4 separate regions of the Homo sapiens genome follow, and regions 2, 3 and 4 are each linked to region 1. The links come from fine-mapping of genetic effects on gene expression. A gene starts in region 1. Each other region holds a variant in brackets. All regions are shown on one strand. Distances are between the middles of the regions. Region 1 holds the start of NMT1 (N-myristoyltransferase 1). Region 2 holds the start of MIR6784 (microRNA 6784). Region 3 overlaps NMT1 (N-myristoyltransferase 1). Region 4 overlaps NMT1 (N-myristoyltransferase 1).

Region 1 (7,878 bases):
CTCATTAATCCCTACAACTCTGAGTTAAGTACCTTTCCCAAGGTCACAGGACTGTTAAGTGTCAGAGCCAAGCTTTGAGATGAGATTTTGAGATCAGAGGCTTGCTCTGTCGCCCAGGCTGGAGTGCACTGGAGAGATCTCAGCTCAGTGCAACCTCTGCCTCCTGTTTTCAAGTGATTCTCCTGCCTCAGCCTCCTAAGTAGCTAGGATTACAGGCGCCTGCCATCATGCCCAGCTAATTTTTGTATTTTTAGTAGAGATGAGGTTTCACTATGCTGGCCAGGCTGGTCTCAAACTCCTGACCACAAGCGATCTGCCCACCTCAGCCTCCCAAAGTGCTGGGATTACAGATGTGCGCCACCGCGCCTGGCCTCAGACCAGATTTAAATTATTCCAAAGTCCATGCTTTTCTACTGTGCCGTGCTGCATTTTCCCACATTGCTGCTTCTCCCCAAAACCATTTCCTCTCAAAGTTCATGGAAAAATGTTGACTCTACCCCAGATTCTTAGTGCCAGAATTAGACTCTCTCCTCCAGACTAGGCCCTTGGTTTTTCACCTACTACCTCCAAACTCATTTTCACAGATCTTTAGATTTGGGACGCTAATAAACATAATTTTTTCACCCAGACCATAACCATGCACAGAGACACCACTGCAAACTGTCAAAGTTTTTAAGGTTATCACTTACTTCTACTACAAATAAAATAATTTTATTTATTTATTTTTTTGAGATGGAGTCTCGCTCCGTTGCCAAGCTGGTGTGCAGTGGCGCAATCTCAGCTCACTGCAACCTCCGCCTCCCGGGTTCGAGTGATTCTCCTGCCTCAGCCTCCCGAGTAGCTGGGACTACAGGTATGCACCACCATGCCCAGCTAATTTTTCTATTTTTAATAGAGACAGGGTTTCACCATGTTAGCCAGGATGGTCTCAATCTCTTGACCTCGTGATCCACCCGCCTCGGCCTCCCAGAGTGATGGGATTACAGGCATGAGCCACTGTGTGCCACTTTTTTTTCTGAGACAGGGCTTTGCTCTATTGCCCAGGCTGGAGTGCAGTGGTGCAATCTCAACTCACTGCAGCCTCCACCTCCCAGGTTCAAGTGATTCTCCTGCCTCAGTCTCCGGAGTAGCTGGGACTATAGGCGTACGCCACCATGCCCAGCTAAATTTTGTATTTTTAGTGGAGACGGGGTTTCACCATGTTGGCCATGCTGTTCTCGAACTGCTGACCTCAAGTGATCCACCTGCCTCGGCCTCCCAAAGTGCTGGGATTACAGGTGTGAGCTACCACGCCAGGCCAATAAAATAACTTTCTGGCACACAGTTTTGAAAAGTGATTCACAGATTATAGGGCACAAACCTAAGGACACTGGTCAGGACAACAGTTAAGAAGATAAAAATAAAAGCAACTACAAAAAGAGCAAAGAAAATGCCACACTTTCACTTCTGGAATGACTTTCACATTCACCAACTCTCATCTGTGATTCAGATCTCTACTCAGGAGAGCTTCACTTTCCCTTCTTCCTGTTCCTACTTCCTCTTTCTCAGCTCTTCCATTTTTAGGAATATCAAACTTCAAAAGAAGACTTTTATTACATTAGATCTGTTGTGAGTTACAGCAACAGAACAGTCTTATAAAAACTAAATTTGGCAAGCTTCCTATTCCTCTACTTTCTTCCTGTGATTTTTTTTTTTTTTTTTTTTTTTTGAGTCGGAGTCTCGCTCTGTCGCCCAGGCTGGAGTGCAGTGGCGTGATCTCAGCTCACTGCAAGCTCTGCCTCCTGGGTTCACGCCATTCTCCTGCCTTAGCCTCCCGAGTAGTTGGGACTACAGGCGCCCGCCACCACGCCCGGCTAAATTTTTTGTATTTTTAGTAGAGATGGGATTTCACAGTGTTAGCCAGGATGGTCTCGATCTCCTGACCTCGTGATCTGCCTCCCAAAGTACTGGGATTACAGGCATGAGCCACCATGCCCGGCCCTTCCTGTGATTTTTAATGCCGGCTGAAGAACATAAAAGCTAGATCTTTTAACCTAAGATTTACCACAAGCAGATTATAAACCACTTAAATACAGTCATGCTTCACTGAACGTCAGGCATATGTGCTGGGAAATGCATGGTTAGGTGATTTTTGCCTTGCCAACATTATAGGGTGTACTTACACAAATCTAGATGGTATAGCCTACTAAATGCCTAGGCTATATGGTGTACATTACAGTAACATGCTATACAGGTTTGTAGCCTAGGAGCAATAGGCTGCTGCATGTTACTGAGTACTGCAGGCAACTATAATACAATGGTAAGTATTTGTGTATCTAAGCATACCTAAACATAGAAAGGATACAATAAAAATATGTACTATAATCTTGTGGGACCATCTCTTCTACGCAGTCCTTGGTCTTTATACCTTTATATCTGCACTGCCACCAATACTGCGAATAACAAGCTGGCTACGAAAATCAGACTACCTCAGACTCAGCAAGTTATACACCCAAAAATCTCTCACGACTTTCAGTTTAAAAATATATCTACAAATATAGACAGGAAGATGGGGAGAGACAGCGTGAGTGCCAGTGCCAGGCACTAACCATGTGAAGAAAGATGAATAAGCTGTGGCTTACAGAAGTAAAAACTAATTTGGGAAAAGAATTCAACATTCAAATGCCTGGTGTGTTTCTTCATCCCTAGGAACAAATAGTAACTAATGGCAAGACCCTAAAGTACAGGATAGGCAGTATGGAGCCCGAGGATTCCAAATACTCTCCAAGAAACAACATCGCTCATTTCTTGAAGCCTGGGGCTGCTCTGCAAAGGTAACAAGGCAAAGATGTTCGAAGACTTAATTATATTAATATATCGTTCAGGATACTTATGGATTATTTGGAGCAATGGAAACTATGTAAATCAAAGCATTACCATACCGTTAATTACATAGGTTTATAAGGTGAGTTTATATTTTGGGATTCTCTGGTAGTGATATTTTACAATATAATTATACATACAGTTTGTATAGTCTGATGAGTTTCCTCACTGAGGGTGAACTGCTGCGAAATGTTTTATGATTCGTTTATTGCTAGTCACGTTGTTCAAACAACACGTCTATAAGTAACGTTCCCTTTGAACTGTACTGTTACTAGACTGTCCTGTGTTGTACCATCGAAAACCATCGTCCAACATGCTCTTTTCCCAGGAATGGCCTGAAGCACACGAGTGGAACACTGCATAGAACTTTTATATAATAAAAGTACTGAACGTCTCCGGCCCTTAATATCCAGAGCACCCACCCTTGGTAAATGACAAAGGCAATAACCAATCGCCAGGCAGAATCCTAGTGACTTAGCCAATAAGAACATGAGGGTGGGGCTAGACTAAGCTCCCGGTGACTTCCCCGCACCCCAGAGACCCAGGTTGTGGGAGGCTGGACGGGAATTGGACTCCGAGGATTTCGTTACCCCCGGTTGTAGCTGTTGTCCTCCTCATTCTCGCAATCGCTGCAGTGCTCATGGCCGTTCCCGTTCCCTTCCATCATCTGCGGCAGCGGAGGTGCCGGCGGCTTCACTGCTGTCTCACTCTCGTCCGCCATCTTGAGTTGCGAGAGCAGGGCTCCGCGCCCCACTACATGGGGGGTTCCTATTGGACAAGGGGAATTTGCGCTGCATTCTGGGTTTTGTAGTTTTTCTGGCGAAGCGAGCTGCCACTAGGAGCGACTCTTTCCCAGGAAACTGACTACAATACCCAGGAATCACGAGGGACGGCTCCGGTCGGATTAAGAGGCGGGGCCACTGATACCCGGAAGCCTAGGCATTCGGCCACGCTTTGAGGAAAGAAGGGGCGCAAGGTTGGTGGGACCGACCCTTGGGAACCGGGCGGCCGCCTGGCATGATGGGAGTTGTAGTTCGATGCTGGTTTAGGGTTTCAGGCGTGGAGGTTCCAAAATCCGAGGTTTGATTTCAGCCTGCCCTTGCCAGTGCCTGGGCCGCTGGGAGCCGTTATTGGCTGCCGTTAAGGACCGTTACGTTTCCCGGGTAAGTGAAAGGGCCTGAGGCCCGCGGGTGCTACCTGCCTGGAGCCGGAATGCCCCAGGCCTTCTTAGAGTGGGCTTTTCCGCAAGAAGCCTAGTTGACTCCTGGCCGCCTTCCTCACTCGGGAGTCTGGGCAACCTGCGGTCATTGGCAGTTCAAGGTCTCATGAGAGGCAGTGGATTTTTTTGTGCGAAGCACTGACCCTAAGCCAGGAGACCACACTGCTAGGGAGGCAGGGCTCGCCGCCTCATCTTGGCCTCCAGGTACTTATCTTCGCCAAGCTCTTTCGCGCACACGTGGTCCCTTTAATTCCCCACAAGAATTTTCCACAACGACCCTTTTTTTCTTTTCTTTTCTTTCTTTCTTTCTTTTTTCTTTTTTAAATACGGCCGCCTTCTGTCGCCCAGGCTGGAGCGCAATGGCTCAAGATCACAGCTCACTGCAATCAAGGTATCCTCCCACCTCAGCCTCCCAAGTACCTAGGACTATAGGCATGAGCCACCACACCCGGATAATTTATATATTTTTTGTAGAGACGAGGGTCTCGCCTTGTTGCCCAGGCTGGTCTCGAACTCCTGGCCTCTAAGGATCTTCCTACCCCAACCCCGCAAAGTGCTGGGATTACAGACGTGAGCCACGGCACCCAGCCCACATCAACTCTTTCTTTAATAAGTGCCAGACTCTGTAGTAAGGCATTTCGTACATTATCTCATTTAATCCTCTCAACAAGTCTACAATATAGGTCCTATTATTATTATTCAACCTTTGTTTTGTTTTGTTTTGTTTTGAGACGGAGTCTCTCTCTGACTCCCAGGCTGGAGTGCAGTGGTGCGATCTCGGCTCACTGCAACCTTCGCCTCCTGGGTTCAAGCGATTCTCTTGCCTCGGCCTCCTGAGTAGCTGGGATTAAAGGCGCACGCCACCACACCTGGCTAATTTTTGTATTTTTAGTAGAGACGGGGTTTCACCATGTTGGTCAGGCTGGTCTCGAACTCCTGACCTCGTGATCTGCCCATTTCGGCCTCCCAAAGTGCTGGGATTAGAGGTGTGAGCCACCGTACCTGGCCATATTGACCTTTTTGACAGATGAAAAAATGTGGCCCTGAGAGGTTGGTAAATTGCACAGTCACATAGCTGGTTAAGTGGCAAATCGGTATACAAATCCAGATCTGTGTGCCCCAGGCCCTCTGAATTCTTTGCCACCATAAAAGTCCCATTTTCTGATACACTATTCACTCAAGGAAATCAGTTACTAAAAGGTAACTGTGACTCCAGTGCGTATTCTATATCAGGGGAAAAAAGGTAACTGCCACATTTTAATCTGTTTTTAACCTTGATTGAATGTTTCAGTCCCTGAGTCTCACTCTTTTGATTGAGTAATCTCGCCTAAGTGCCCAAAGACATGGTTCCCATTCTTGGAAATTTCCTATTCGGGTTGAGTGTGGTGGGTGATGAGAGGACTAATTCTTACCATCAGAGTGCTCCATGGCCAAAAAGGGAAATGATCTTTGCCTTTGGGAAAGATCTCAACATGGGAAGAATGGCAGGGCGGGAAGAAACAGTTCCCATCTGACTCAGGGAAAGAAAACACAAATAAAACACAGAACTAAATATAGTCAACTCTTTCTTTCTTTTTTTTTTCTGAGACGGAGTCTCGCTCTCTTGCTCTGTCGCCCAGGCTGGATTGCAGTGGCGCGATTTTGGCTCACTGCAAGCTCTGCCTCCCGGGTTCACGCCATTCTCCTACCTCAGCCTCCCAAGTAGCTGGGACTACAGGTGCCCGCCACCTCACCCGGCTAATTTTTTGTATTTTTAGTAGAGACGGGGTTTCACCGTGTTAGCCAGGGTGGGCTCGATCTCCTGACCTCGTGATCTGCCCGCCTCGGCCTCCCAAAGTGCTGGGATTACAGGCGTGAGCCACCGCGCCCGGCCAACTCAACTCTGTTTTTATATCAATGGCATAAGCATAAGTAATTATGATCCAAAGCAGCAGATAATCCTCAGTCATTTATATTTGACTTTGGAAGGCAGTCAAAGATGCCCACTCAGTCTGAGAGCTGTCACCACACTCAACTCTCCGGGGTCTAAGACTGCTGTTCAACGCGATTGCCCTATTTGCAGCTGCAGGGAAGGGGGGGGTCAGAGGTAAGAAGAAGAATAATAAAGCCAGGCCAGGCGCTGGGGCTTATGCCAGTAATCCCAGCACTTTGGGAAGCCGAGGTGGGTGGATCACCTGAGGTCAGGAGTTCGAGACCAGCCTGGCCAACGTGGCGAAACCCCGTCTCTACTGAAAATACAAAAAAATTAGCTGGGCTTAGTGGTGGGCGCCTATAATCCCAGCTACTTGGGAGGCTGAGACGCGAGAATCTTTTGAACCTGGGAGGCGGAGGTTGCAGTAAGCCAAGATTCTGCCACTGCACTCCAGCCTGGGTGACAAAGTGGGACTCTGTCTCAAAAAAAATAAAAAGTAGGCTGGGCGTGGTGGCTCATGCCTGTAATCCCAGCACTTTGGGATTACAATAATAAAATAAAAGATAAAAAGATATTTTGTGTGTTATTTTTATTTATTATTATTTTTGAGACTGTCTCGCTCTGTCGCCTACGCTGGAGTGCAATGGCGCAATCTCGGCTTGCTGCAACCTCTGCCTCCTGGATTCAAGTGATCCTGCCACCTCAGCCTCCCCGGTAGCTGGGACTACAGGTGCGCACCCCCATGCCTGGCTAATTTTTGTACTTACAGTAGAGATGGGGTTTCACCACGTTGGCCAGGCTGGTCTTAAACTCCTGACCTCAGGTAATCCACCTGCCTTGGCCTCCCAAAGTGCTGGAATTACAGGTGTGAGCCACCACGCCCAGGCTTTTTTTTTTTTTTTTTTTTTTTTGAGACGGAATCTCACTGTCACCCAAGTTGGAGTGCAGTGGCACAATCTCGACTCATTGCAACCTCTGCCTTCCAGGTTTAAGCGATTCTCCTGCCTCAGCCTCCCAAGTAGCTGGGATTACAGGTGCCTGCCACCACGCCCAGCTAATTTTTGTACTTTTAGTAGAGACAGGGTTTCACCACGTTGGCCAGGCTGGTCTCGAACTCCTGACCTCAGGTGATCCGCCCACCTCGCTCTCCCAAAGTGCTGAGATTACAGGTGTGAGACACTGCACCTGGCCTGAATTACTGTTTTTTTTTTTTTTTTGAGATGGAGTCGCACTCTGTTGCCCAGGCTGGAGTGCAGTGGCACTATCTCGGCTCACTGCAACCTCTGCCTCCTGGATTCCAGCAGTTCTCCTGCCTCAACCTCCCGAGTAGCTGGGATTACAGGCACACACCGCCATGCCCAGCTAATTTTTTGTATTTTAGTAGAGACGGGGTTTCACCATGTTGCCCAGGCTGGTCTCCAACTCCTGAGCTCAGGCAATCCGCCTGCCTCGGCCTCCCAAAGTGCTGGGATTACAGGCATGAGCCACTGCGCCCAGCCGAGAGCTTTCCACTTTGAAACAATTTTGGTTTGTGAAAAGCTGGCCCGGTTCTGCCTTATGGAGTTATGCAGAAATATAGCTGGGTGAGGTGGCTCATGCCTGTAATCCCAACACTTTGGGAGGCTGAGATGGGTGGATCACTTGAGCCCAGGAGTGTGAGACCTGCCTGGGCAACATAGAGGACCCTGTCTCTAAAAAAAATACAAAAATTAGCGTGGCATTGTGGCATGCACCTATGGTTCTAGCTACTTGGGAGGCTGAGGTGGGAGGATCGCTGGAACCCAGGATCATGCCACTGCACTCCAGCCCGGACAACATGGCAAGGCCCCGTCTCTATATAAATAGGAAAAAAGGGCCAGGCGCAGTGGCTCACGCCTGTAATCCC
Region 2 (7,878 bases), 53 kb before region 1:
AATTCCAGACCAGCCTGAGCAAATAGCTACATCCTGTCTCAACAAAAATAAAAATTAGCTGAGTGTGGGGGCATGTGCCTGTAGGCTGAGTTACTCAGGAGGCTGAGGTGGGGGGATCACTTGAGCCCAGGACTGGAGAACACAGGGAGACTGACTGTGCCACTGCACTTCAGCCTGGGTGATGGAGAGAGACCAAAGCATAGACAACAACAACAAAAAATCGGCCAGGCGTGGTGGCTCTCACCTGTAATCCCAGCACTTTGGGAGGCTGAGGTGGGCAGATCACCTGAGGTCAGGAGTTTGAGACCAGCCTGGCCAACATGGTGAAACCTCATCTCTATTAAAAATACAAAAATTAGCCGGGTGTGGTGGCGGGCGCCTGTAATCCCAGCTACTTAGGAGGCTGAGGCAGGGAGAATCGCTTGAACCCGGGAGATGGAATTGTAGTGAGCTGAGATTGCACCACTATACTCCAGCATGGGCGACAGAGCAACACTCCATCTCAAAGAAAAAAAAAATAATTCCTGCAGCCGCCCTCAGCCTCCTGGACAGTCTGCTGCTTCCCTGGGTTCTCCAGAGCCCTGCCTTTGCCTGCCTGTCCTGAAGGGTCTGGGAGCCAGATGTTGGGAGATACTGGCAGAGGGAGGGGAGTGGCTCTGAGCTGCTGCCCTTCCCCCCACAGCTGTCCCCTTACCCTGTCATCCTATCCCTGGAGAACCACTGCGGGCTGGAGCAGCAGGCTGCCATGGCCCGCCACCTCTGCACCATCCTGGGGGACATGCTGGTGACACAGGCGCTGGACTCCCCAAATCCCGAGGAGCTGCCATCCCCAGAGGTGACGCCCCCCAGCCCCTAGCCTGGGTGGAGGGAGGTCTGGTGGGAGTCCGCCTCCCCGCACTGCTCGTGCCACCTCTGTGGCTCAGGACCCCTCACCTCTTGCTGCCTTAACTTTTCTCTGTTCCTCTGTTCATCTGAGGTCTGCCATCCCCTGGTCTTGTCCTTCTGCTGCCCTCTGGCTCTCCATTCTTGACTAGACCCCCCCACACACACACCCTCTTCTGTAACCTGGCTTTGCCCTGCTGGCCCTGTGTCCCTGCCCGTAGAGTCCTGCAGGCTCTGCCATTCCCACCTGCAAGGCCCCGCTTGACACTTTCTCCACCTGGAAGTCCCTTCTCGGCCATCCACACTTGCCAAGCGTCACCTGCTTAGAATTCAGCTCAACTTCAGCCGCCTCTTCCTGTGGCCTTATCCACTTCCCCAACTCTCGGGCCTGAGGCGGCCTCCTGCTCTCCCCCAGACACCAGAGCGCGTCCTCGGCTCTCTCCAGACATTTATCCTGTCGGGCTCCTTGAGAAAACTCTCCTCCTACTTCCAATCCCCAACATGCAGGCAGGGTTGACTCACCCTCGTGTGTGTGTGAGATGTGATTTTTGTTATTACTGTGAAAATCACACCCGTATGGTAAAAGAAAACTGAGCTGTACTAAGGGACGCGATGAGCAGTGCTCCCCTCCCTCCACTGACCTGTCCTCTTTCACAAGAAGTAACCATCTCTAACTTTCTTGCATGTCCTTCAAGAATTTCCCCACACACATTACCTGTGTACATATGTGTACTGTCTTCTCTTTTAAATGGTACCAAAAAAGGACATGTGATTCCAGGTTGTAGCCTCACTTCTTCCACGTAAGATCTTCTTTGAAGAGGGTCCCTTTCCTTTCAGTCCTGAGCTGTCGCGTGCATTGTAGTGGCTGCTGTGTATATTCTGATGTTGAGGGACCTTATTAAGCATCCCTTCCTGATGGCCTCCCGGGCCATTCTCCACTCTTTCCTATTAGAAACATCGCTCATCTCTGTGTCTCCTTTCCTGCCTCCCACCCCTAGCCAGCCCCTCACAAGGCGGTGGTTGAATAACTGACTGACTGGCTGCCACAGGGGCGAGAAGGCCTAACCCTTCATCCTCCACGTTGGCCCCCACAGCAGCTGAAGGGCCGGGTCCTGGTGAAGGGAAAGAAGTTGCCCGCTGCTCGGAGCGAGGATGGCCGGGCTCTGTCGGATCGGGAGGAGGAGGAGGAGGATGACGAGGAGGAAGAAGAGGAGGTGGAGGCTGCAGCGCAGAGGCGGCTGGTGAGAGCTGGGATGGGTGGGGTGGGGAAGGGGGGGAAGGTGGGAGGACGGATGTGGGAAGCGGGGGCCAGCTGAACCCCGCTGAGCCTGGTCTCCTAGGCCAAGCAGATCTCCCCGGAGCTGTCGGCCCTGGCTGTGTACTGCCACGCCACCCGCCTGCGGACCCTGCACCCTGCCCCCAACGCCCCACAACCCTGCCAGGTCAGCTCCCTCAGCGAGCGCAAAGCCAAGAAACTCATTCGGGAGGCAGGTAGGAGCTGGGGCACTGGGTGTCTGGGGGCGAGAGGGTGAGAGACCTCCTGAAGGGAGTCTGGAAAGGAGTTGAGGGGGCTTTGGGGGACAGTAAAGAGGTCAAGAGGACCCCAAAGAGGGGCTGGGCTGAGGGAATGAGGGCCCCGCACATGCCAGGGTGGATGGAGGGGAGTGGCACGCTGAGGGCGGCCTGCTGTCTGCCTTCAGAGCCCTGTGGTGGGGCCGGCCATAGAGGGTGATGGGTCAGGCTGGGCTGGGGGCTGGGGGAGCCCAGCAGCTGCTGCAACACTGGGGAGGAATTCCTGGGGCAGGTGATGCTGAGAGGACACATCACCTGGAGGACTAGGAAGCAGCCAGGTGAAGAGGGGAGAGCGCTTTCCAGACAGGAGGAACAGGTTGTTGAAGGCCTGGGGCCTTGGCCTGGAGAAGAATTCCAGGAACCACAGTGGAGCTGGAGGGCCGTGGGCATTCAGTGTACTTGGTTGGAACTTTGTCAGGAGCTGGGAATTGGGGGCTGGGGATGCAGGGCCAGGCTGTGTGGCTGGAGGGGGTCCCTGCAGCCTCCTCAGTGAGCTCCCCTCTCACTCTAGGTCAGAAGAGAGTGAGGAGCGGGGGCAGGGTGACCTGGGGACGGGCTTGGGCTCTGTTCCCTGGAGGTTACAGGCCGGGGCTTTGGGTGAGGGACCCCCGGAGTCTGTCACGGTCTCACCCCAACTCTGCCCCAGGGAACAGCTTTGTCAGGCACAATGCCCGCCAGCTGACCCGCGTGTACCCGCTGGGGCTGCGGATGAACTCAGCCAACTACAGTCCCCAGGAGATGTGGAACTCGGGCTGTCAGCTGGGTAAGTGGGGGCCACAGGAATGAGAGCAGGCGGGGTGCCACAGTGTGGGGGAGGCCTCAGCAGTGAGGGGCCCACACAGCCTTCCAGACGGTGGAAACACGCATTTTGTTGATTATTTTTAAAGTTGCCAGCAATGTAGGTGGGAAAATCAAATCAGGCTCGTTTGTTCTTGACAGTGTACAGGTCTCGCATTTTTATCATGGTAGAAATTAAAATCTCCACTCCCATGTCCCCCGGACACACACAACCCCCACACACCTGGCAGTCCCACTAAGTCAACACTGACAAGGGTGGGCTCTGGGGGACGCTGAGCCCCACCAAAGGAGGGCTGTATCGTCTCCTTGGGGTAAGGATGGAAACCCCAGGCTTCCTCAGACCCCTGGCTCTGACCCAAGCCTGGCCCTGAGGGTGGGGGCTTTTTTAGTACCTCCCACCCCAGTCTTGAGGGATCCCAGGGCAGAAGTACAGGTGACAGTGGGGGCTGGGTCCATGACCCCCTCCCCTAAAGTCATGGTGGGAGCAGAGCAGCACTAAGCAGACAGTGGGACCCCAGGCCCTTTGTAGAGAGGAATGCAGTCCCCTGAAACTGAGTAGTGAGAACAGGGCCGCTA[A/G]GAGCCCCTGCTCTGACCCTGCTGTGTCCACAGTGGCCTTGAACTTCCAGACGCCAGGCTACGAGATGGACCTCAATGCCGGGCGCTTCCTAGTCAATGGGCAGTGTGGCTACGTCCTAAAACCTGCCTGCCTGCGGCAACCTGACTCGACCTTTGACCCCGAGTACCCAGGACCTCCCAGAACCACTCTCAGCATCCAGGTCAGCAGGCTGGAACGGGCCCCAGTGTGGGGTCAGACTGGTTCTAGAAAGGCTCTTTGTGAGGTGGAGGAAGGCAAGGGAGGCTGGGGACATTTGGAAGTGAGGGTGGTGTGAGCTTGAGGCCCATGAGGGGATGGCCAAGGTGGGCGTGGGCCCCAGCCACTCCCTCCCTCACCCACAGGTGCTGACTGCACAGCAGCTGCCCAAGCTGAATGCCGAGAAGCCACACTCCATTGTGGACCCCCTGGTGCGCATTGAGATCCATGGGGTGCCCGCAGACTGTGCCCGGCAGGAGACTGACTACGTGCTCAACAATGGTGGGCAGCCACTGGCGGAAGTGGGGTTGGGGGAGACTGCAGAGAGCGAAGGGTGGTGCAGGGTGGGTCCTGGGGCCCCTGGGCTCTGACTGCCATCCCTGTGCCCTAGGCTTCAACCCCCGCTGGGGGCAGACCCTGCAGTTCCAGCTGCGGGCTCCGGAGCTGGCACTGGTCCGGTTTGTGGTGGAAGATTATGACGCCACCTCCCCCAATGACTTTGTGGGCCAGTTTACACTGCCTCTTAGCAGCCTAAAGCAAGGTTGGTGGAGGCTGGTGGGGATGGAGAGGGATGTGGGTCCAGGTCCTGCAGACCCTGTTCACCTTTGTGCCTCGAATTTCCTGCCCTGAAGCAGGCCCGGGCTGGGCCAGACCCCCAGGGTGCACAGAGGACCTGAGGCCTGGCTGTCCTCCCTACAGGGTACCGCCACATACACCTGCTTTCCAAGGACGGGGCCTCACTGTCACCAGCCACGCTCTTCATCCAAATCCGCATCCAGCGCTCCTGAGGGCCCACCTCACTCGCCTTGGGGTTCTGCGAGTGCCAGTCCACATCCCCTGCAGAGCCCTCTCCTCCTCTGGAGTCAGGTGGTGGGAGTACCAGCCCCCCAGCCCACCCACTTGGCCCACTCAGCCCATTCACCAGGCGCTGGTCTCACCTGGGTGCTGAGGGCTGCCTGGGCCCCTCCTGAAGAACAGAAAGGTGTTCATGTGACTTCAGTGAGCTCCAACCCTGGGGCCCTGAGATGGCCCCAGCTCCTCTTGTCCTCAGCCCACCCCTCATTGTGACTTATGAGGAGCAAGCCTGTTGCTGCCAGGAGACTTGGGGAGCAGGACACTTGTGGGCCCTCAGTTCCCCTCTGTCCTCCCGTGGGCCATCCCAGCCTCCTTCCCCCAGAGGAGCGCAGTCACTCCACTTGGCCCCGACCCCGAGCTTAGCCCCTAAGCCCTCCTTTACCCCAGGCCTTCCTGGACTCCTCCCTCCAGCTCCGGAACCTGAGCTCCCCTTCCCTTCTCAAAGCAAGAAGGGAGCGCTGAGGCATGAAGCCCTGGGGAAACTGGCAGTAGGTTTTGGTTTTTATTTTTTGAGACAGGGTCTCGCTCCGTCGCCCAGGCTGGAGTGCAATGTTGCAATCATGGCTCACTGCAGCTTTGAACTCCCAGGCTCAAGCGATCCTCCCATCTCAGCCTCCTGAGTAGCTGGGACTACAGGCACAGGCCACCAAACCTGGCTAATGTTTAAATTTTATGTAGAGATGGCGGGGGGGGCGGGGGTCTCCCTATGTTGCCCAGGCTGGTCTCGAGCTCCTGACCTCAAGTGATCCTCCTGCCCCAGCATTCCAAAGTGCTGGGATTACAGGTGTGAGCCACTGCCTGGCCTGGCCGTAGGTTTGTAACTGTTTCATAGAAGAGCCCTGGAGAAGACAGTAGAATGAGCCTATCTAGTTTAAAAAATAAAGAAGCACGTTGATTTCACCACCGCCACTCCCTGAGCACCTCTATGCTGCCACCCCCACAGGCCCATGAGGAGGGACAGGGCTGGATGAGTTTCTTGGGCCTCTCCCCTCAACAGGGCATGGACTTGGCTAAGACAGCCAGGGGGTGGCAGCAGGAGATGCCACAGCTCTAAATAGCCCGATCCCTGCTCCTGGCTTAAAGCTGCTGCGAGTATCACAAGACTGTCTGAGGATGCCAATTCAGCAGGTCAGCGCCTCCCCACAACACACACACACACACACACACACACACACTCACACATACACAGAGGGGCCTTGAATGAGGAGGAGACAGGAGTCTGAGGGACCCTCAGACTGCCACTCTCCAGGCTTGGCTGGGCTCAAGGCCCCTGTCTGCTCAGTAGGGCAAATCCCAAGGACACGGGCTTCCCTTCCTCCAGCCAGCCAGCCTTTTACACAAAGGCTGGAAACGCTGCTTGGGCCGCCTCTATAGAAATGCCAGGAGAGCGCACTGGACACTAGGCGACAGAATCTGGAGAAAATCCTGCACCCGCCCCTGCCAGCAGGGTGAAATGTGGAGGCCTGGTGTTTTAGGTTCTGCCAGCCAACAGTGCCGGCACTGGACAAGGGCAGAACTTGACATTAGTCCCCAGAGGGTGGCCTGGAACTGGGCTGGGATAGGCCTTGAACTGGCCCCAAGCCCCACAGAAACCAAAACACAGGGCTGGGGCAGACTCCACCTTCTAGCAACTCCAAGAACTAATGCAGAAAGTGGCAGTGTCCCCCGCTCCTTCATGCTGGGAGTGGCGTTTGGCTCTGGTTAATTTGTGTGTCTGAAAGAGGATAATCAGAATCAAAAGGGCCCAGAAGGAATGGGCCGAGCCAGGCGGGCCGGGCCAGGCAGCCCGGGCATCTGGCACTCAGGGCTGTCAGAGGGTCAGGCTGCCAAACTGCAGCCTCAGGATGGGAGGCACAGTGAGGCTAAGTCCAGTTTTAGCAAATGAAGAGCCATTAGCATTGCCCAGCCCCTGCAGAGCCAGGTCTGGCCAGGGGCTGGCTGGGGGGTCTGGGTCAGGTGAGCACCAGACCCAGGGCTGAGTGCCCATCCTGCTTGGCTTCTCTGGTTTCGTATCTGGTACCAAGAGGAAGGGGTGAAGGCTAGGATGAGGGCCCAATACTGAGAAGGCTGCCTTGAAAGGGCAAGAGTCTTTTTTTTTTTTCTTTTGAGACAAAGTCTTGCTCGTCCCCCAGGATGGAGTGCGATGGCGTGATCTCGGCTCACTGCAACCTCTGCCTCCCGGGTTCAAGCGATTCTCTTGCCTCAGCCTCCGGAGTAGCTGGGATTACAGGCGCCCGCCACCATACCCAGCTAATTTTTGTATTTTTAGTAGAGACGGGGTTTCACCATGTTGGCCAGGCTGGTCTCGAACTCCTGACCTCAGGTGATCCACCCGCCTTGACCTCCCAAAGTGCTGGGATTACAGGCGTGAGCCACTGCACCCAGCCAAAAGGGCAAGAGTCTTTAAGGAAGTGAACTGGGAAGCAGAAGCAAGGGAGAAATCACAGGGTTTTTTTTTTGTTTGTTTTTTTGAGATGGAGTCTCGCTCTGTCGCCTAGGCTAGAGTGCAGTGGCACGACCTTGGCTCACTGCAAGCTCCGCCTCCCGGGTTCACACCATTCTCCTGCCTCAGCTTCCCAAGTAGCTGGGACTACAGGCGCCCACCACCATGCCCGGCTAATTTTTTTGTGTTTTTAGTAGAGACAGGGTTTCATAGTGTTAGCCAGGATGGTCTCGATCTCCTGACCTCGTGATCCACCCGCCTCGCCCTCCCAAAGTGCTGGGATTACAGGCGTGAGCCACCATGCCCAGCCTGAAATCACAGCTTTTTATCCCAGAGGCCCATGGGTAGAAACAACACATAGGGCTATGTTCTCTCAGCCCAAAGCTAAGGGCAGGAAAAAAGGCATGGGCCATAGGAGCCTGAGTGACTTGGTTTGGGACAGGAGGGTTGGGGGGCTTTAGAGGGGTCAGGCAGGTCCTGTGTCCTCTCAGTTTCCCTGGAAAGGGGCTTGGAGGCA
Region 3 (7,878 bases), 43 kb before region 1:
CCTCAGGGTCCTTCCTTTGCTTGGTTTGAGACAGCCATGGCGCTACCACACTGCAGGGCTCCTGTGGGGAGGCCCTGACCCCCGGGATGGTGCTCTCTGAGCTGAAGTCCCAGAAGGGGTTGAATGAAGAACGCAGGGACTACTGGGACAAAAATCAGATGAGCAGCAAGCAGCCCACAAGCCAAACCCTGCACACCTGGGCAGAGTTCTCACCGCAACATAAAGCAGAGTCCGAGGAGCCGGCCACCTGGTTTCAGTGAGGGAGATGCTGGGGCCTTTGCCAGGAGATCTGTTTCTTCCAGAACAGCCACTGGGGCCTCACCGTTTCCATTCCATGACCTGGGTCAACCGAAACAGAGCTCACTCCAGAGATCCGCACAGCCCAAATCTCAGAGGCAGCTCAAGCTGGGACCTGGCCCAGAACAGATCAAGACTAGGACAGGGAGCCTTTCCAAGTTCCAGGTTCCCCCAAGGTAGGAAAGACTTGGGCACTTTGTCCTTTGATATCCTCAAAGGTCTGGACAGGGTGAGCCACTCTGGGGCTTGAGGCACTGTGCAACTGTTGTCTGTGGGGCTGCAAAGCAAGCCCCTGCCTCTCCGACTCCTCCCACCTGTGGAATGCAGTGCGCATCTTGCTAAGAACAGCAGCTTCTTTGGTCTCAGTTTCTTGGAGTCAAGGAGCAAACGTCAGTCACGATTGCTGGGGCCTGCAATTTGCAGCGCAGGAACAATGGGAAAAGGGAGGGCCCTGCAGGCCCCTGATGAAAATCCACCTTAGTGGAGTTGCTGGCTCTAGCAGCAGTCTGCAGAGCGGGCAGCATTCCCACGGGTGGCACGGCCCCCATCCCAAGCATACGATGTCTTCTGGTTTTGGAAACTCTGCAGAATTAGCCTCTGACAAACCACACCAAAACCCACAGCCTGCAACAAGCCCCTGCTGGCCTGTAGAAAGTGGCTTCGGTGAGTGGCACAGGGCTGAGCCTGGCCTCCTGGCTAAGGCTTCATTCCTGTATGAGCGGAGAGGTGACGGCAGCAAGGAAACCCGCACACCACACGTCATGCTACCTCCTTCCCACCACTTGCTTCTCTCTAGAGCAAAAATTACATCCAAGCCTGGAAGTACAATTTCACAGCCCAATTTTGCCCGGTCACTTGGCTGAACACCACTCCAGAATGCCTACATCGACAGCCATGTGACCAGAGGCTTGATTACGTTTTGGGAAACTGGCAGCACTGACAACCATCACTACCACAAAAATCCACAAAACAGCATCAGCGAAAATCAGACTCAGACAATGGAGATGGGAAACCACTTCTGTTGCCAAGTCCAGATCTGCCTCTAATCACTTCTTGCTACCACTTGCAGGCTGTATCTTGGAAAGGGGCACAACAAGAAATGGCTAATGGGTTGGAAGGCACAGGCCAGGGGCTGGTGGCTGAAGGGGTCTGGGTATTGGCCCCACGCCACTCCTGCCTAGCCACCCCAGGGACATCAGGGTGCTGGCTCTTTGCTCTAAGATGAGCTAAGCAGGGCTTACACTGATAATGGTCTCCAAAGGTCCCTGATGTTACAAGGAGGTCCAAGGGCCTCTTCAAACTGCATCATCCCAGGCAGTGGAAAAGCAAAATCTCACAGGGGACTCATCCCTATAAGGTTGGCAACAACTGGCTAAAGAGCCCTTTTAAATCAGTTGGCAGGATGACTTCCTACAGGGAGCAGGCCAAGGGGATGGAAGAAAGGACTCAATCAATGAGGTCTGCTTCTGCGGACCGTCCATTGCTTTGTCTCAGAATGCAGGCAGGTCTGGCCCTGCAGGAAAGTCCCTGCCCAGGGTCAGCCCCAGCCAAGAGCTCCACGTGCTATCCCATGAGATCTGAGCCTGTTCCATCTTCCCTTCCTTCTCAAAGCCAGTCATCCCAGCTGATTCAGAAGGGGAGCTGGATGAGGTTCTCCAGATCCTCTTTTTCCCCATGATAAGCCAATGTCTCCTCTGGAGGAAACCATGAACTGTGCCAACGCGTCTGTCTGCCACTGTCCTCGGGTCCTCATTCTGAGGAATGATCTGGATTCAGCTTTTCATTAAAGACCAAACATCCTTGTACATTTGGAACATGAAAGATATTTAAAATATTTATATATATATAATATATATATATACTTTTATTATTCACCCGTTAACTCCATTATATGCCAATCACGAGCTAGTTTTCAGCAGTTACATTCCCTTGATCACGGCTGCATGAGGATGTAATTAACTGGAAAACACGGAGACCAGAGACACGACCGGAGGTGACGTCACGCAGCCCACGCCATCGCAATACAATTGTCAAGTTCGCTGGCGGTTTGGTAAAGCCGGTTCAGTTCTGCTCCCTTTGCCAGGGATTCTCACGTGTGTGAAAATTGGACCAACAGTGGTGGGGTTCCATTTCCTGGTTCGAATTTTCAGTGGCTTTATCCAGAATCGCACTGGTGACTGGTTATTGTAGCACCAGTCCAACCTAGGAAAGCCAACAGGGAGAGGCAGAGCTGAGTTGACAGTGGCCCAAAGACTCTCCCACACCCCCTATCCCTGAAGTTCCGAGTGGCTGGGCCCGGGTCCACCGCCTGTGCTGTGGGAGCAGACTCACACCCAGCCGGCCCCACACTCAACCTCCACACCAGGGTTCACACGTCCATCAGACCTCCCAGGGAAAACTGGCCCACGCTCCAGCTCACCCCTATGTCCCCTGTGGCACTGGGGGAGGAAGGGCTAAGAAAGTGTCATGCCAGAAGAGGGCAGCAGCTCAGGAGAGGAAACCTCCTCAGAGTTCCCCCAGCCCTACCCTCCTGGCAAACCGTGGGCAACTCAACTTCCACGGTTCCCTCACGTGGGAAGGCCTCATTGGAGATGATCTTCGTGCTACTGTGTGGCTCTGTCCCCTCTGCCATCCTCACACCAGTTGCTGAGAGGGGAACGCTGACCTGCTGGTCTGGCCAGCAGAGGGAGGGCATTTTCAAAGGTTCAACTCGAGGTAACAAGGACCCAGACTGCGGCTGTCTCCTCAACCCATGGCCCGGTTTCTGCTGGAGACATGGACACCCTGGGCCGGGCAGCCTGGACTCTGGCTATGTGTCGCCTACCTTCTCTGCCCCCATGCTGGGGCATTTCCAATTGTAAAGGTAATACTGCAGGTTGCCGTCCCCTATGCCAAACTTGAGCTTCTCCAGGAAGGTTTTGTTCTCCATGAGATCCAGTGCATTGAACACATCAAACCCTTTCTGCAAAGCAGCAGGGACAAACAAGAACAGGTGAGGACAGGTGGGGACAGCCTCCTTCCTACCCCTTTGCTGCCATTTCAAAGCTGTCCTGTGGGCAGCCACAAGAACAAGGTTCCCTCAGAAGCTCCGCTGCTTCCACGTTAATCCCCGCTCTCCGGGTGGTTCTCAGGACACTCTGAGCGCCCCCTCCAGCCTGGCCTCTGCCCAGTGTCCCTCAGAGTGTACACATATGTACTCAGTGTCCAGGCCGGGGCTCTTGCTATTCCTGGTTATGCCTCCCTGAAACTCTAGTAATTTCCACAGTCCTCTCTGGAGTCCAAACCCTGAGCCCATTCCTCTGAGAAGCTGGCTCTGGTCAGCTACATGGGGTTTGTGTTGCTTCCTTACTCCATGGATGCCCCAACTCTCAGGCCCTCAGTGCACCTCATGTTGTATGACACCTGCTGTGTTGCTTGGAGACTGTGAAGATGCTTCCTAAACCTCACCAACTGGAGCAGAAGCTCTCACAGGGCAGGGACCAGATTGCCTACAGCAGGCTGGGCTGGGCTGGGCACAGGTTACCAGAACCCACAGCAAAGCACTGACAGACGGGCTCGCCATCCGCTACTGGCAGTTGGATGCTCCAATGACTCACCACGACAGACAGCAATCACCCCTTTCCCACGCTGGGAAAGCTGTGAGGAGAAGCCCTGTCCTCCCAGGGAAGGCCTGGCTATTCAGGCTCCTTGGTGGCGCCTCCTGTGAGAACGAAACTCACTGAAATGAATCAGGAGGAGTTCAATGCCTTCACTTCGGATGCTCCTTGTTCCCTCCAAGTTTTGAGTTTCTGCCTAAAAACTGCGGGAACCCTGCCTAAGCAGAACAGATGAGGAGGGCTCAGAGCCTCCAGCCCATGGGAGGCTGCGTCCCGGGAGCTGTGCTCACCATGGCTCCACTGCC[T/C]CTTCCCTGCACATCTCCAGAGACCCCCCCGTCTGCTCCTCACCATTTTGGCGAGGACAAGGGCGTCGCTCATGAGGTCTAGAAGAGGGGTCTGGGTGTGAACGTTGTAGAAAGAATAAGCAGCTTTGAGACTCTTGTGGGTTGGATGGTTCATGATGGTGGAGGGCAGCGTATAAAAGCTCAGGAAATCTGTCACCTCTCCGTTTGCGTTCTGAAGGGAAGGCAATAAAGAGGCAATGTCAAGCATGCACAGTGGCACTGCGGCCCGGGAACAAAATGTTTCTCTCACTCCACCTTCAGGCAGCTCTGCCCCTCTAGATAAATGGCTGGAAACTGCAACAGGACATGTGGGGAGGAGGAGGGACATTGGCTCAGGGCACTTGAGGACAGAGCCGTGATCGTGGGCTGAACCTGCCAGACCTCTTTCCCAGCATGGGCACCGCCAGGGACCTCTTCTTGCAGCTCACATCCCCCCAGACTGTGTCTCCTATGTCTGGTCAGCACTGGGTTAAGCTGGGACAGGCAGGGAATTGCAGGCTTTCCTGAAGGATTAAGCGGGGCTCAGTTCTCTCTATTTTGTGTTATCAAAGTGGGGCAGAGGGGGAGAAGGGCTCAAGCCAGATCCAGAGGTATCTTTTCAGCAAATTCAAGCACCAACTCCCTGTTTTTAGGGAGGACCAAACACGGATGGTCAAGGAAGTCTAAGGTGCCAACACTCGAGCCCTGGGAACCCGGCCACTCAGGGGGGTGCCTCTCTGGGAACGTGTTAGAGACCTGGAACACCACTCCCTGACTCACCTCCACCACGAAAGTGTCGATGATATTCTCCTGGGGGTAGAACCAGTGCTCCACCTCCTCCTGGCTCATGACGGGCGTAAGGTGAAATTGCTTCAAGTACCTGGTGAGGAGCTGGTGCACTACTGGAATGTCCTTTGTTTCCATTGGTCGCAGCCCAGCTGTCTTGGGAGTCTGGAGGCAAGACAGAAGAGATGGAGTGAGATGAGCTGATCACCCTGGATCTATCCATGGCAAGGACAGATCAGGCCCTCAAGAGAGAATCCCTGGTCATTCGGCGGCTCCCTGCACCCCCGTGCATATCTCCTCAGGCACAGGGCCTGCCTCTTCCGTATCTTCTGGCCCTTTCCCTCCTAGTCCAGGCAGACTCAGACTGCTACATCAATCAACCATCTACATGGCCCCAGGCTGACTCCCTAAGAAAACACAACCCTTCATGCTCCACCCTTGTTTCAAACTCCCCACCCCAGAAGACAAGAATTTCTACCCTTGGGCCAGGTTGGCCTTTCTAGCTGTACCTTCTGCCCACGCAGCCCAACAGTCCTCACAGGCTTCTCACTGAACTGTGACTGATGCCATCCCACACTCACTGCTCTTTCTCTGCTAGACTTAGAGCACTTCGCGGACAGACCCCAGGGCCCAGCCAGGGTCTGCCCACCCAGACACTATTACACCAGTACTTCCCAGAGAGACACGGCTGTGGGTTACATTCAGAAGAAAAGCAGCATACTCCCAGGATTTTATCCCCAGTCAGCGTCCCACCCGGCAGCTGCTTTTGCTAGAAAAATGCTTCAGTGGAATGAAACCATGTGATCCTGTGGAGCAAATACCGGGGCTGGTAGAACATCCCCAGAGGCTCAGATACACAAAGGTGGCCTTGGGGCAATCTGCAAACAGGGTGGTGTCACAGTTTACAGGCCTCAGTCAGTGCCTGACACAATGCTTCCCAGTGCAGGAATTGCTTTTAAAACTTCAGTTCTAGAACCTCCAGCCTCTAAAATTCCTTGCTAAATCCTCGTCTCTTTAGGGGAACGCTCAATGACCTCATTCTACATGGCAGCTCCCACAATGATACCTCAAATCCTGGACTGAAAACACAGCCATGCTGGGGTTTCCACCCAGACATGGGTGAGACATTCTTCTGCTGCTGCAGCACTCTAAGAATGCTCTCTGCCTGCCTGCCCACCGGCCTAGAACGCAAGGCAGATCTGTCATGAGAACAGAAGGGAGAAGACACATACCACAGTCCCCCAAGCCTGTGCTTTTGGCAGTGTCTAACGGTACTGCAGCAGTCTCTCAAGATGGGACACTAATGACCCCAATCACTAGGTGGATTAGCCTGATTTCAGAGTGATCAATCCTGTTTAGAGGCTGAGGAGTCCAGGCAGGCAGCCTCATGTCAGCAGGAACGCAGTGACTGTGTGCACTGATGACCAATAGGAAGAAGCACTCCGAGGAAAGAGAAGAGATTTTTTCTTTCTTTCCTTTTTTTTTTTTTTTTTTTTTTGCGACGGAGTCTTGCTCTGTCGCCAGGCTGGAGTCCAATGGTGCGATCTCGGCTCGCTGCAACCTCTGCCTCCCAGGTTCAAGCAACTCTGCTGCCTCAGCTTCCCAAGTAGCTGGGATTACAGGCACATACCACACCCAGCTAATTTTTGTGTTTTTAGTAGAGACAGGGTTTCACCATGTTGGCAGGATGGTCTCAATCTCTTGACCTCGTGATCCACCCGCCTTGTCCTGCCAAAGTGCTGGGATTACAGGCGTGAGCCACCGCCCACCTGAGAAGGGATTTTAAGAATCCCTACTGGGATGGGCACAGTGGCTCATGCCTGTAATCCCAGCACTTTGAGAGGCTGAGGTGGGTGGATCACTTGAGCCCAGGAATTCAGATGAGCCTGGGCAACATGGCAAAATCCTTTTTTTGTTGTTGTTGTTTTTTTTGAGATGGAGTCTCGCTCTGTGGGCCAGGCTGGAGTGCAATGGCGCTATCTCAGCTCACTGCAAGCTCCGCCTCCCGGGTTCACGCCATTCTCCTGCCTCAGCCTCCCGAGTAGCTGGGACTACAGGCGCCCACCACCAAGCCCGGCTAATTTTTTTTTGTATTTTTAGTAGAGACGGGGTTTCACCATGTTAGCCAGGATGGTCTCGATCTCCTGACCTCGTGATCCACTCGCCTAGGCCTCCCAAAGTGCTGGGATTACAGGTGTGAGCCACCGCGCCTGGCCTTCTTTTTTTTTTTTTTTTTTTTTTTTTTTTTTTTTTGAGACGGAGTCTTGCTCTGTTGCCTAGGTTGGAGTGCAGTGGTGCGATCTTGGCTCACTGCAAGCTCCGCCTCCCAGGTTCATGCCATTCTCCTGCCTCAGCCTCCCAAGTAGCTGGGACTACAGGTGCCCGCCACGCCACGACCAGCTAATTTTTTGTATTTTTATTAGAGACAGGGTTTCACCGTGTTGGCCAGGATGGTCTCGATCTCCTGACCTCGTGATCCGCCTGCCTTGGCCTCCCAAAGTGCTGGGATTACAGGCGTGAGCCACCACGCCCAGGCTTCTTTTATTTTGAGACGGAGTCTCGCTCTGTCGCCTAGGCTGGAGTGCAATGACGTGATCTTGGCTCACTGCAAGCTCCACCTCCCGGGTCCATGCCATTCTCCTGCCTCAGCCTCCCAAGTAGCTGGGACTACAGGCACCCACCACACCACGACTGGCTAATTTTTTATATTTTTACTAGAGACGGGGTTTCACCGTGTTAGCCAGGATGGTCTTGATCTCCTGATCTCGTGATCTGCCCACCTCAGCCTCCCAAAGTGCTGGGATTACAGGCGTGAGCCACTGCGCCTGGCAGCAAAACCCCGTTTCTATAAAAACAAAAATTGGCCGGGCATGGCG
Region 4 (7,878 bases), 34 kb before region 1:
ATTTGGTGCACACAATATTCAAAACAATTTGAGCCAACCATTTAAAACTTTAGGACATTTCCCATAAAAATCCAGATTTGGGCTCATCCCTAAAAACAAAAACAAACCACCAGTACCGCCCCCCACCATCTCCAAATGGCAGCAGCCAGCAGACACCAAGAGCCCTCCAGACAAGGCAGGGACTTGCCAATCTGCCATCCCTACAACCCTCCCGCCCTCTCCATGCTCCCCATCTGGCTCCTGCAGGCACCAAGTGCCCGCCTTACCAGATACGCCAGAGGTGGGATGCTAAGGGCGGAGCTGTGACTCACAGTGGCACATGCTCCTCAACTACAGTGCAGACACCCGCATTTTTGGGGCCTTACAGGAAGACAGTTTTACCTGCAGGTGCCAACGGGCTTTGGTAGTACCACCCCGGCAGTGTAAACTGCTTGGAAGATGCCCTCCAGGTGAACCCGCCTGGTGATCTCTCGGATCAGAACTGGAGCAACCCTCTTGGAACGCAGCTTCTTGTGGACACACAGGAAGTTGATCTCTACCATCTTCTTCTCTCTAAGAGGGGGAAAAATCCAGGTGACAAGGTTTTTAACAGGGAAGGGAATGGTGATCCCATCAAGCACGTGCAGCCACACCTAGAAGGACCAGGTCTGCAGCACGGGTGTACTTTTAGCTGCCACCTGCACTCAGTACTGGGACTCCCCACCACACTCCACCAGGCAAGGAGCCTGCCTCACTTCAACAGAATCTATTTCCAAAGGAAGGTGGGACCCAAGCAAACACCTTTATTTGAAGGTACCACCAGCATCTCCCTGATGAGTCCCTAGGAGTTGGCTGGGGAATCCCACCTTTAGCATGCAGGGAAGCAGCACAGGGAACCCACGGGGCAGGTCAAGGCAATTCTAGGGTTTCAAGGGTTCTGATTCCCTCAAGAACACAGCTGGTAATAAGCCCTGAAGACTGTGGCAGGCAGATGGTTTCAACACTTCCAGGGAAAATGAAGAGCAGAGATCACAGGCCCCAAGGACTATCTGAATCTGGGTCACACTCGCTCTGGCCCATTTCTGCTGCTGTTCAAGTGCTTCCATGTGTGACTGGTACAGGCGTTCAAAAATGAGCCTCTGATTAGCCAGGTGTGGTGGCGCATGCCTGTAATCCCAGCTACTTGGGAGGCTGAGGCAGGAGAATCGTTTGAACCCTGGAGGTGGAGCTTGCAGTGAACCAAGATCGCACCACTGCACTCCAGCCCGGGCAACAGAGTGAGACTAAGAAAAGCCTCTGGCCAGGCACAATGGCTCACGTCTATATTCCCAACACTCTTGGGAGGCAGAGGTGAGTGGATCACTTGAGCTCAGGAGTTTGAGACTAGCGTGGGCAACATAGCAAGACCTTGCCTCTATAAAATGTAAAAAATAATAAACAAAAACAAAAACAAGCCTCTGCTGAGCAGGCACACCAGGCCTCAGGGTGGGCTCCTTCCAACCTGGGCCACAAACAAGGGAGCTGGCTGGGACTCTGAGCAGAACAGGTGGTTCCTAGGATGAATCTGCAGTCCCCGCACCTGGGCATCCTCCCTTCCTGAGACCTTCCCTCTTCCTTTCATGGGGCACATTGTGCAGCCTTTTTCTACTCTCTCCCAGACCAAGCAGGATGGCGGTGTTGTGGGGGGTGGGGGTAGGTGCAGGTGCTTACGTGTCATAGATATGGATGTTTGCTGGGATGGCGCTAATGAACCCAACCAATTTCCGACTTGAGACCACTCGAACCCCACAGTGCCACTGGGGGAGCCAGCCGGGTGGCCGGAGAGCCCTGGAAAAGAGAGGCTGGGGTGGTTGTGCTGCTTGCCGGCAGGCTGGACAAGCCGCTTGGGCTCCACAGCCAAATTTGGTTCGGACCTGGTGCTACCACCTCCCTGAGGGTTAATAGCTGGATTCTCTTTAGGGCCAAGCCCTCCTGGACACACAGAATCGAGCCATCACCATTTCTGGCTGCTCATCCCATTTGGCCTAGTTACTCATCCAACCCAAGGTTATCATACTGAGGATTTCATGCCTGATCCAATTTCTGTGTTCACTTTGACAGCTTGAACCAAGGTACTGGCATCTTTGGTTCGGAGGCCAGTGGGTCCCATGGTTGAGAGCTGACTGTGGCAACCCTGGAGCTCTGGTGTCCTGTCTCCCTCTTTCTGGTACAAATTCTTCCTTCCCTTTCAGGTAGTCCCTCTCCATTTCGGCCCATGCCTCTCTCTTCCTGGATATTAAACGTGGCCTGGGCAGGTGGATGGCTCAGCCAGGCAAGGCTATACAACTGAGCATGCTCAGGAACTAGATAGAAAATGTGCCTTCTTTTCTTTCAGTCTTAGTAGGTCTCATGCCCGTTCCTTTCTTATATAAAGTCACCAGACAATGAATACCTCTTCCCTGGGTACTAGCTCTACGAAGGTCTCCCTCACCCAGTCAATTGTCTTAAACAAGGCTGCAATTCTAAGTGCTAATGAAAGCAAGTGTCCTTCAGATGCAGGAACTCAAAAATGACACACTAATTTGCCATTCAAAGGTTGGCCCCTGGCAGGGATGAAAACTCTGGTGCCCTCTGGTGGATCTGCTCTATGCCTTCCTCTCAAGAACCTCAAGAAAGCCCCCACAACTTACCACAAAAGAAACTCCGGGGAATAATCAAATCGGAACATGTTGTCATCATCTTCCACATAGTTCTCATTCAGGAGGGTGTACAGTTCTTTTAGCTGTAAAGAAATAAGCAGCTCACTTGGAGGTATTCTGCCAGGTAGTAGACCAACTCCAATACCCTGGGGCTCTAGGCTTTTCAGAAGGATGAAGCAAACTACCAAAAACGACGTGGAGTCTCACAAATCCTTCTGCCCCCTGGCATGGTAGGAACTCTTGGAGCAAACACCCTAGTTATAGTAGAAAACTGAGCCATCACGTGGTAGAGTGGCAGACCGAGAATGCCACCTAACTAACCAACCACTTCATCATTCTGCGCCATCAACAATGGAGAGCCACTGGTCTCAACTTCTGTGAAGTGCTATAGAGGGACGACTCTCGAAGCTAGTCAAGGAATTACCACGGAGAGTCACTGCTGTTTCCCACCTTGTCTGATTTTTTACCATCTGGCCCAAACAAAGGCCTTTTTTCCTTTCTTTTCAAGATAGA[G/C]TCTCACTCTGTTACCCAGGCTGGAGTGCACTGGTGTGATCATGGCTCACTGCAGCCTCCAACTCCTGGTTTCAAGCGATCCTCCTACTTCAGCCTCCTGGGTAGCTGAGACTACTGGGGCATACTACCATGTCCGGCTAATTATTAAATTTTTTTCTTTTGTAGCGGGGGCAGTCTCACTATATTGACCCGGCTGATTGATTTTGAACTCCTGGGCTCAATCGATCTTCCCACCTTAGACTCCCAAATTGTTGGAATTACAGGTGTGAGCCACCACACCCAACCACAAAGGCCTTTTTCTGCCTTCTCAGCTATCTCCATCTGCTGGCCCAACTTTGGTATTAAAAAATTCTGTTGGCCCGGTGTGGTGGCTCAAGCCTGTAATCCCAGCACTTTGGGAGGCTGAGGTGGGCGGATCACCTGAGGTCAGAAGTTTAAGACCAGCCTGGCCAATGTGGTGAAACCCCATCTCTACTAAAAAATAAAAAAATTAGCCTGGCGTGGTGACAGACACCTGTAATCCCAGCCACTGGGGAGGCTGAGGCAGGAGAATTGCTTGAACACAGGAGGTGGACGTTGCAGTGAGCCAAGATTGTGCCATTGCACTCCAGTCTGAGCAACAGAGCAAGACTCCATCTCAAAAAAAAAAAAAAGACTGGGCGCAGTGGCTCATGCCTGTAATCCCAGCACTTTGGGAGGCCGAGATGGGTGGATCATGAGGTCAGGAGTTCGAGACCAGACTGGCCAACACAGTGAAACCCCATCTCTACTAAAAATACAAAAATTATCCATGCATGGTGACAGATGGTTGTAATCTCAGCTACCTGGGAGGCTGAGGCAGGAGAATCACTTGAACCTGGAAGGTGGAGGTTGGGGTAAGCCAAGATCGCGCCACTGCACTCCAGCCTGGGCAACAGAACCAGACTCTGTCTCAAAAAAAAAAAAAAAAGCCAGGCCTAGTGGCTCATTGCCTGTAATCCCAGCACTTTGGGAGGCCAAGATGGGCAGATCACCTGAGGTCAGGAGTTCGAAACCAGCCTGGCCAACATGGTGAAACACCATCTTTTCTAAAAATATAAAAATTAGCTGGGCGTGGTGGCACTCACCTGTAATCCCAGCTACTCGGGAGGCTGAGGCAGGAGAATCGCTTGAACCCAGGAGGCAGAGACTGCAGTGAACTGAGATGGTGTCACTGCACTCCAGCCTGGGCAACAGAGCGAGACTCCATCTCAAAAAAAAAAAAAATTCTGTTGACTTTTTTTTTTTTTTGAGACAAAGAGTCTCGCACTGTCACCTGGGCTGGAGTGCAATGGTGAGATCTCAGTTCACTACAACATCCCCCTCCCAGGTTCACGAGATTCTCCTGCCTCAGCCTCCTGAGTAGCTGGGATACAGGCGTACACCACCACACCTGGCTAATTTTTTGTATTTTTAGTAGAAATGGGGTTTTATTATGTTGGTCAGACTGGTCTCAAACTCCTGACCTCATGATCCGCCTGCCTCAGCCTCCCAAAACGGTGGGATTACAGGTGTGAGCCACCACGCCCGGCGACATTTTCATCATTCTTTATAAGGGAAATAAATCCCTCAGGTCAAAACAAGGGGCTCTGGGTGGCCGGGGTGGAAAGGGGAGGACAGGGCCTCATTTAGCAGCCCCAGCTGCTCCAGTCAGGAGACAGACTAGAAAGAAAATGAGGAAATGAATGAACAAAAAAGAATAAATGAAAAACAGGTATCCACATCGGGGACCTACAGAGGTTAACTTCCAACCTGCCAGAAAAGCTAAGAGCTATTTATGTGGAGTCTTGGCCATGCCCCAGGAAGTTACAGACGGGAGTCTGTTCAGACCTCCTTGGCTCAGCTCTCTAGGGCTCGAGTAAACGTAGTCTAGGTGAGACTGCAGGGCTTACTGTGAAAGTGGCTCCTACCCGCAGGTGTAACCTTCTGAGGGCCCACTCACCACACCACGATCGCCCAGGTCCAAAGCATCCCAGGTGAAGCCCTGGGGCAGGGTGTAGGGCTCCTGGCGGATATTGTCCTTGTCAGGCTCCACGGGGCCATGGGTGTTCACCACTTCGCCTGAAAGAAGAGCACAGCTGTGAGCCTCACCCTTTGCCCCCTCGGGGCAGTAAAGGGCTCAGTTCAAAACTCAACCAGAGCAAATTCCTCCTGTCCCTAGGAGCCCTCTATCTGAAGAACATTCTGTGCTTGGCAACTGCAAACCGTCTTTCCAGCTACCCTTAGCCCCTAACTGAGGGCCAATTCATGGCAAAACCTCAGGACAATCACTGGGATCCAAGGTGGTTCGTGTTTTGGAAATCCATTTAAATCTCCCTTGGGTCACTGAATGACAAACATTTATCTTTAGTAATTTGGCTTCCTGCCTCCTGGTTGGTGTAAAGAGTGCTGTCAGGGCCCTGGCCCAGGCCCATCAGTCTGGATGGGTTTGTAAGGAGTCACAACAAGGCTGCTTTTGTGTCAACAGCAACAACAATGTACTGGGCCCATTTCTGAACCAGATGATGGCTTCTAGGCGCCAGGCTCAATCGTGGCCCTGCCAGCCTTGGCTTTCAGCAGCGTGAGCCAGTTAACTGCTACTGCCAACTCAGGCCCTCAGTGTTTAGAGTCCTGCAAGTGCCTTTGGGCTGAATCACCAAGTCTACATAGTGCTGCCGGGAAGTCACCCTGACACAACATCCCCTCCCTGAGCAGGATAGGCCCCTCCTCTGTGGGAGCATGTGGGGAGTGCTCCAAAGACACAGCCCTCATTCCTATCCAGAGCTCAATCGGACTCATATATGCTGAGAGATTCACCACTGAATTCTGGCCCTTGGGATGATTTCGGTTCTACAATGGGCTCACTCATGTTTACACTGGGAAGAATGCAATGTTTAGTGCATTTTGGAAAATGGAGTCTTCAAAAGGGACCAACCCAGTAACAGTGTTCCTAGCAAAGGGCTCTGTATAGACTAGGCACTCAATTCATGCTTTTACTGACTTTCAGACTCCTGATCCCAAATATTTTTTTTTTCTTTTCTTTTCTTTTTTTTTTTTTTGAGACAGTCTCATTCTGTCGCCCAGGTTGGAGTACAGTGGTGCGATCTTGGCTCACTGCAACCTTCACCTCCCTGGTTCAAGCAATTCTCCTGCCTCAGACTCCCGAGTGGCTGGAATTACAGGTGTCCGCCACCACGCTGGCTAATTTTGGTGTTTTGTTTTTTTTTTTTCAGTAGAGATGGAGTTTCACCATGTTGGCCAGGCTGGTTTCAAACCCCTGGCCTCAAGTGATCCACCCGCCTCGGCCTCCCAAAGTCCAAACATTTCATTCTAACATGTAACAGGAAGCTCTAGACCTTCCCAGAATGATAATCTGTGGGGCAAGTGTGGTGGAAAGGGCTGCATCAGGCTGCAGCACACGACACCACCGCTGGCACTGATCATCTCACCCTCTTCCATCAGACACATTACTGAGCACCAACCGTGCACCAGTGACTCAGTGACCATGCCAGCCCCTAGTGTACAGCAGGAAAAAGGACCAAGTCCCTGTCCTCATGAGACATACCATCTTCTGGGGAAATAGTAAATAAATGAGTCATTATCCACGTGCTGCAGGTCAGGATCTGGAAAGTGCAGGGACACACAACAGGGAAGCAGCCTGCTCTGTTGGTAATCAGGCTTCCCAACAGGTTTGCTTGGGAGAGAGGTCATATTTTTCTTCCCTAGTTAGGAAACTCATGACTGGCGAGATGGGGTCTTGCTCTGTTGCCCAGGCTGGAATGCAGTGGCGTAACCTTGGTTCACTACAGCCTCGACCTCCTAGGCCCAAACGATCCTCCCATCTCAGCCTCTCGAGTGGTTGGGACTATAGGCATGCGCCACTACGCCTGGCTAATTTTATTTTTCATAGAGATGAGGTCTCACTGTTGCCCAGGCTGGTCTCAAACTCCTAGACTCAAGTGATCCTCCTGCCTTGGCCTCCCAAAATGCTGGGATTATAGCATGAGCCACGGCGCCCAGCCAAAACCCACCATTTGATTATTCATAAAGTAGCTCTTGTGAATTTAAGTCAATCCGCTTCCAACTGACAGCTATGTATATTAAAAAAACATTTTTGAGCCTACAAAACTGAGGGCCAGACCCTCTAGTCTTATCTAGGTGCTAATTTCCCAACTTGTATTGAATTTATACCTTTTCCTATACACTTCAGAACCTTCTTTTTTTCCCCCTGAATTATTTCCATGGCCAAGAATACTGATGGTCTTCCCTATTGTACTAAAATAACCTCAAGGCTAAATCTTCTCATTTAGGCTGGCTACTAGGTCCTACACGCAACAGGCACTTCCATTCACTCACTCCTTCACCAAGTGTTCACTGAATCCTAGAATGTGCCAGTTCTGTGGCAGGGGCTGGCGAATGAAACAGACACAGGTCCTCACCATCATGGACACCAAAGAGATGAGCAAGGATGCACATGCCACCCGGCATGGTGAGGGCCAGTAAGAATGAAGTACAGGGTGCTATGGGACGTGTGTGTGTGTGTGTGTGTGTGTGTGTGTGTGTGTGTGTGTGTGTGTGTCAGGAAAGACCTCTCAGAGGAAATATCTAACGACAAGACCTCAAGGATAATTAGGAATCAGCCAGGCTGCAGGTGGACTATGTGGGGCAGGGTGGGTGTGAAAAAGTAGAGCTACAGGAAACACTGAAAAGG

Evidence for each region. PIP is the estimated chance that this variant, and not a neighbour inherited with it, causes the effect.
Region 2: its variant is fine-mapped to the expression of NMT1 in lung (TOPMed, PIP above 0.99).
Region 3: its variant is fine-mapped to the expression of NMT1 in whole blood (TOPMed, PIP above 0.99).
Region 4: its variant is fine-mapped to the expression of NMT1 in whole blood (INTERVAL, PIP above 0.99).

The regions. Positions count from the first base shown.
Region 1 is chr17:45,057,035-45,064,912 of GRCh38, reverse strand. NMT1 (N-myristoyltransferase 1) reads right to left here and starts at 3,596. Exons shown (of 12, transcript NM_021079.5): 1 at 3,453-3,596. The coding sequence starts at 3,583. It also overlaps a transcript of DCAKD not described here. RefSeq lists enhancers at 3,156-3,235, 3,178-3,472, 3,326-3,685, 2,833-3,824, 3,786-3,965 and 1 more.
Region 2 is chr17:45,109,589-45,117,466 of GRCh38, reverse strand. It overlaps PLCD3 (phospholipase C delta 3), which reads left to right. Exons shown (of 15, transcript NM_133373.5): 8 at 683-835; 9 at 1,977-2,123; 10 at 2,223-2,373; 11 at 3,101-3,217; 12 at 3,862-4,028; 13 at 4,210-4,345; 14 at 4,455-4,604; 15 at 4,763-7,878. The coding sequence ends at 4,851. MIR6784 (microRNA 6784) reads left to right here and starts at 3,034; the gene lies at 3,034-3,100. RefSeq lists enhancers at 2,075-2,940, 3,807-4,671, 4,672-5,537. The variant A/G (reference allele first, on the strand shown) is at 3,829.
Region 3 is chr17:45,100,240-45,108,117 of GRCh38, reverse strand. It overlaps NMT1 (N-myristoyltransferase 1), which reads right to left. Exons shown (of 12, transcript NM_021079.5): 9 at 4,997-5,167; 10 at 4,242-4,409; 11 at 3,122-3,259; 12 at 1-2,499. The coding sequence ends at 2,479. Among named protein-coding and RNA genes, the nearest start is that of MIR6784, 10 kb to the left of the region's middle. RefSeq lists enhancers at 758-1,259, 4,092-4,592. The variant T/C (reference allele first, on the strand shown) is at 4,199.
Region 4 is chr17:45,091,056-45,098,933 of GRCh38, reverse strand. NMT1 (N-myristoyltransferase 1) reads right to left here. Exons shown (of 12, transcript NM_021079.5): 4 at 5,131-5,249; 5 at 2,649-2,740; 6 at 1,690-1,806; 7 at 382-552. Among named protein-coding and RNA genes, the nearest start is that of MIR6784, 19 kb to the left of the region's middle. RefSeq lists enhancers at 1-305, 306-806, 7,709-7,878. The variant G/C (reference allele first, on the strand shown) is at 3,171.